2 separate regions of the Homo sapiens genome follow, and region 2 is linked to region 1. Evidence: fine-mapped expression QTL. Tissue or cell type: iPS cells. Region 1 holds a variant in brackets; the other region holds the start of a gene. All regions are shown on one strand. Distances are from middle to middle.

Region 1 (2,758 bases):
CAGTAGGGAATCATGTTTGCTCAGGATTGTTTCTGTAGCCACCTATAGGTTTTGAGCTCTGTTAATCAGGACTGAAAATCAATAATCACCAAGCCATAGGCCACACTGCATTCTCCATCAATTATTTGTAAATAAAAATAACAAGATCTCCCAAAGGTTGGTTGAGTTTCTTAAAAAAAAGTATTCTGTAGGCTTATTTATAAGAACTCCTACTACCTATTATATGAGCTAAGAATACAGACACCAGCTACCAGGAATCAATATGTACTCAAATTGCTCCATCAATATGCATGTTCATTTATTCCCTTCAAGGTTATCTTGGCTGTTCAGGGCAGACACTCATTTTCTCTATTATAGCCGTGCCCTTTAGGTTGAGTGAGACAAGCAGAAGGAAGAAGCCTCTCATACAAGGACATCAGTTTGTGTATTTGCAGCCTTGGAAATCAGGCAGACCACTCTGGTAAGAGGGGTGAGAGCCTGTGGCTGGTATCTCCACCTGCTTTTCTTGTTTACTCAGAAAATTTACTCTGTGTTTATTCAGGAGTGTAATGTGTGAATTCAGGAAACATAGCCCCTCTAGGATTTCCCCAGATAAACAGTGAAGGGTGGTGGAATATGTCACCCCAAAAGATGCCACTTTGGCATATAAATTATTTTGAGTTAGAGGCACTTTTTTTTTTTTTTTTTTTTTTTTGAGATGGAGTTTCACTCTGTCACCCAGGCTGGAGTGCAGTGGTGCAATCTTGGCTCGCTGTAAACTCTGCCTCCTGGGTTCAAGCAAGTAGTTGGGATTACAGGCACACAAGAGCAAGCACAAGAAGACTGCACTCTTTTCCCTTTGTTTTCCCAAAAGCAGGAGACAAAATCTCCATGTGAAAAATGTCCTCCATACACAAAGGAAAGCAACATTCCCGTCACTGTAAGAATGAAGGGAGTTTTTTCCCCACCCCTCTGAAAGTTCGATAATTTGAGTCTATAAGACAAACTGATAGCTGGGTGCAGTGGTTCATGCCTGTAATCCCAGCACTTTGGAAGGCCAAGGCAAGAGGATCACTTGAGCCCAGGAGTCTGGGACCAGCCTGGGCAAAAAAGTGAGACCTCATCTCTCTTTTTAATTAAGAAAAAAAAAACAAACTGACAATAGAAAGACTAACCAAAAATAAGGCATAAAAATGTATTACATCCGTAAGCATGGGAGTCACACAGAATATGAGAACTCAAAGAAGAGCCAGGTGACTGAAGTTTTTACACCGTACACAAGGAAATAGAGCCTGTAGCTCCTG[A/G]GGGGAGGTGGTGACAGGTTATAGGAGGGTGAAGGGAAGAAACTCACAGTGAGCAAAGGCTGGCTTGTTATGCAGATGAAGCCTTTCAGGTAGCAGCCCTCAGAGAGAATAGATGGTAGCCCATGGTAAAGATTTCCCTTTCAAACCTTAGGTCTTCTTTTCCTGCAAGTTGATCTTTCCTAGATCCGGATAAGAGGACCTCAGAGAAAGCCTCTTCCTGCATCCCCCATTTGCTTCACTAATTTGGGTAAATGTAAATTTTTCTTTTACAAAAGGATAGTTTTTCTGAGCTATTTCTTTCTACAGTTTCTCTGAATAACCAACTCAAAATATGCCAAAGAAGTATATTTTGGGGTGGCATATTTTGGTTTCCCACATCATCAAGAACGGGAAGTTGAGACCAAGAGAATTCTGAACAAACAGACCTTGTTAAAATAATCCTTATATTCCGTTAGCCTCCTCACATAGTTTAGTTACTTTTCCACAATTGCATTTCTTTTTTTTTTTTTTTTCGAGATGGAGTCTTGCTCTGTCACCCAGAGCTGGAGTGCAATGGCACCATCTCAGCTCACTGCAACCTCTGCCTCCCGGGTTCAAATAATTCTCCTGCCTCAGCCTCCCAGGTAGCTGAGATTATAGGCCCGTGCCACCACACCTGGCTAATTTTTGTATTTTTAGTAGAAATGGGGTTTCACCATGTTGGCCAGGCTGGTCTCAAACTCCTGACCTTGTGATCCACCCACCTCGGCCTCCCAAAGTGCTGGGATTTACAGGCATGAGCCACCACACCAGCCCCAAAATTGCATTTCTTTGCTCAACCTGGTATAAAAGCATTTAGATTTTGCCACTTCTTTGGGTCTTCATTTTCTTATGAGGGTCCCTATGGCACATAAAACTTATATTAAATAAATTTGTATGTGTTTATGCTGTTAATCTGTCTCATGTTAGTTTAGTTTTAAATTTTTTTATTTTTTTATTTTTATTTTTAGAGATAGGGGTCTCGCTCTGTTGTTCAGGCTGAAGTGCAGGGGCATGATCATAACCTACTACATCCTTGAACTTCCGGGTTCACATGATCCTCCTGCCTCATTATGTCAGTTTAATTCTCAGGCCCAGCCAAAACAGCCCTAAGAGAGTAGAGGTAAAATTTTGCCTACCTAACATCAAGGTCACCAACCATGCAGATAAGGTAAAAGCATAACCATTTTAACCTATTTTGTATCAAAGAGCTTGGAACTTATGGTACATAATGAATAAATGGCCATTGTATAAATAAAACATGTTATGTGGAGAGACAACCTGGCTCCAAAACAAACCTCTGCTACTTACTAAATGCATGTTAGTTAACTTCTCTGGGCTCCAGTTTCCTTATCTGAAAAATGAGGACAATAAAATCTGCCATATTAGATTGTAGTAAAGATTAAATAAAAGAGCTTAATAAAGCACCTAGCACAGTACCTGGTAGACAGTTGGTA
Region 2 (2,758 bases), 120 kb after region 1:
CCCCATGAAATGCTTTTGCATAATGAGAAAGAAAATGTCCTCTATGCCCTAATCAGCCCTGACAGTTCCTGGACTCCCAAATACTTATATTTATGGCATTATTTATTTCATCTCTAATAAATGGATTGGGGGGGGGACACAGCACCATCTGAGGAAGCTGCAGGAGAGAGGGAGACAATCTAGGGGGGAATAATACAGAAGCTGAACCAGCAAGGCAGAGAGAAAAAGCTTCCAAAGGGAAGGAGACCAGGGAAAGAGAGGCCAAAAGATGTGAACCCCCAGAAGAAAATGGGTCACCTTCCTAAGAATAAAAGGAAGGCTCTGAAAAGGAAACAAACTTCAGAGTGCAGAGATGAGGGTCCTACATCAAGGAGCATCCAGAACTCTGACCTGGAGAACGAAAAAGGAAGGCTGAAAAGCAAACCTGGGGCAGGGTATGCTGGTTGGCCTAGAAGAGGGGTGATTTGGGATAGGGAGCAATGGACCCTCTGCCCCAAAAAGTGGCTGGGAGAGACCAGGACATCTGCATCCCATGGAGGATCTTCCTCCCAACGACTGAGATCTCTCATTCAAACGGCTACTGAAATTGGGCACCCTCCAGACCCTCGCCGGATGGCGCCAGTTGCAGTGAGTAAAACAATGCAAGGAGTGAGTTCTCGTGTTTCCCTGGGCTTGCAAGTACATATACATATATTAAAAATGACACTGTTGAAAGTAATCATCACCTCAAAGGGAGGTATCAGGACATTTCCCCACTCAATTGCACAGAGGCTACTGGCTATGGGAAGTGAGGAGTTGACTTCAAATAACCTGGATGCGTCAGTGCAACACAGCCGCACACTCCCGAGTGTCTGACTTTGGGCAATTCCCTTCAACCTCTCAGAGCCTCGGTTTTCTCATCTTTATAATGGGGGGGAAATCATGGTGTCATGCACGTTCTCGGGGCCCCTACGGGAAACAAATGAAAACGTGAAAAAGTTCTACGCCTTGCGAGCTTTTATGTTCCGCATGAGCTCAGAGGCCGCGATGCTCGGGGAAAGCAGGACCCCAAAGCCCCGTAAACACCGCGCGACCACCCGGGCCAAGATCTTCAAGAGGTTCTTTTCAGAAGGATCGGAGAGCAATTCCCGATTGGTAGAAGAACTTGCTGTAATACACACGTACTCTGACGACCCCGCCCCAACGACTAGCCCCTCCTCTGTGCAACCCCGAGAGTTTGGGGTCATGCAGGGGGCGCCACGAGCTCGTTTCGGAAGCCGGACCCCGCCCGCAGCCGCAGAAGCCTCGAGTCCACATCTGGGTCTCTAAAGTCTCGCCGTAGCCAGATCCCGGATCCCCACCTTCTTCACCAGTTCCCGGGCGTCCTCCAGGTCCTCGCTTTCCCCCTTCCCCCGCTCCCCGTCGGAGGCGCGGAGCCGCCAGGCAGACCCCGCGGGCGGCTGCGGCGCCAGGCCCCGCCCCGCCCCCATTATCATTAGCAGATATTACCCTAAACACTTGCTCTTTACCTCCTTTCTCCCTCCAGGCATTGGCGAGGCAGCCTGTCAATCAGGAGCTCGGGCGGCAGCCCCCCGCGCGGGGGCTCGGCGATGCCAGCCTCAGCGACAGGCGGCGGCGGCGGCGGCCACGGCACAGACACACACCCTCCCACACGCGCGCACCAGGGCAGACCCGGCGGGCAGGCGGCGGAGGCACCCTCGGAGCCCGGCGCCCGGCGGGGAGGGGACGTGCTCCGAGGGACCGGCCCCGAGGCGCCGGATGGAGGAAGAGATGCAGCCGGCAGAGGAGGGGCCCAGCGTCCCCAAAATCTACAAGCAGCGCAGCCCCTACAGCGTCCTCAAGACGTTCCCCAGCAAGAGACCGGCGCTGGCCAAGCGCTACGAGCGACCCACCCTGGTGGAGCTGCCGCACGTGCGGGCGCCCCCGCCGCCCCCGCCGCCCTTCGCGCCGCACGCCGCCGTCTCCATCAGCAGCAGCGAGCCGCCGCCGCAGCAGTTCCAGGCGCAGAGCTCCTACCCCCCCGGGCCCGGCCGGGCCGCCGCCGCCGCTTCGTCGTCGTCGCCGTCCTGCACGCCCGCCACATCCCAGGGCCACTTGAGGACTCCGGCGCAGCCGCCGCCCGCGTCCCCCGCCGCCTCCTCGTCGTCTTCGTTCGCCGCTGTCGTCAGGTATGGCCCAGGCGCGGCGGCGGCCGCCGGCACCGGCGGCACGGGTAGCGACAGCGCCAGCCTGGAGCTCAGCGCAGGTACCAACTCTCCGCACAACTTTCCTTCCCGCCACGGCCGGGGGCAGCGGGAGGGGACCCAGGAAGGAGAAGCGGGGGGCCGCCGACACTTACCCGTGCTGGGCCGTGTCGGGATGTCGGGGCGCACCTGGGGCCTCCCCGCGCACCCGGAAACTTCGAGAGGATTCTCCAGCGCCGCCGCGCCTGGGCTTCCGACGGCGCGCGCCTAACAGGTGGCTCCGCGGCTTGGATCCCGCGCCGGGAAGCACGGCTGTGGCAGTCGGCGACCAGGATCGCTCGGGCGTGGTCCGGAGTGGGGCCAGACGCCCCCCCGGGGGATAGCGGCGGCCGCTCGGGAAGAAGCTGGAGCTTCTCGGGCCGCCCCGCTGGGACGCCCTCGTACTACTTCACTTTTTCCGTCTGCTTTTTCCCTTTCTCCTTCTTCCTCCATTTGTTTCTTCTTCTCTCCACTTCTCCTTTGCCTTCTAGTGCTTTCTTCGCCACCTCTTTGATGCACTCTCACGCTGTCGCAGT

Direction of the effects. Alleles are on the strand shown, and positions count from the first base shown. SD is a standard deviation of normalised expression in the study named.
With allele G in place of A in region 1, the expression in iPS cells of the gene that starts at base 1,247 in region 2 is higher (large effect, 1.1 SD a copy in PhLiPS).

The links. PIP is the estimated chance that this variant, and not a neighbour inherited with it, causes the effect.
Region 2: it holds the start of BEND4, and the variant in region 1 is the best candidate, but not a certain one, in a credible set for the expression of BEND4 in iPS cells (PhLiPS, PIP 0.88).

What each region holds. Positions count from the first base shown.
Region 1 is chr4:42,269,893-42,272,650 of GRCh38, reverse strand. No RefSeq gene overlaps it. Among named protein-coding and RNA genes, the nearest start is that of BEND4, 120 kb to the right of the region's middle. The variant A/G (reference allele first, on the strand shown) is at 1,284.
Region 2 is chr4:42,151,144-42,153,901 of GRCh38, reverse strand. It overlaps BEND4 (BEN domain containing 4), which reads left to right and starts at 1,247. Exons shown (of 6, transcript NM_207406.4): 1 at 1,247-1,370; 2 at 1,526-2,245. The coding sequence starts at 1,759. RefSeq lists silencers at 1,555-1,874, 2,075-2,164 and an enhancer at 1,930-2,758.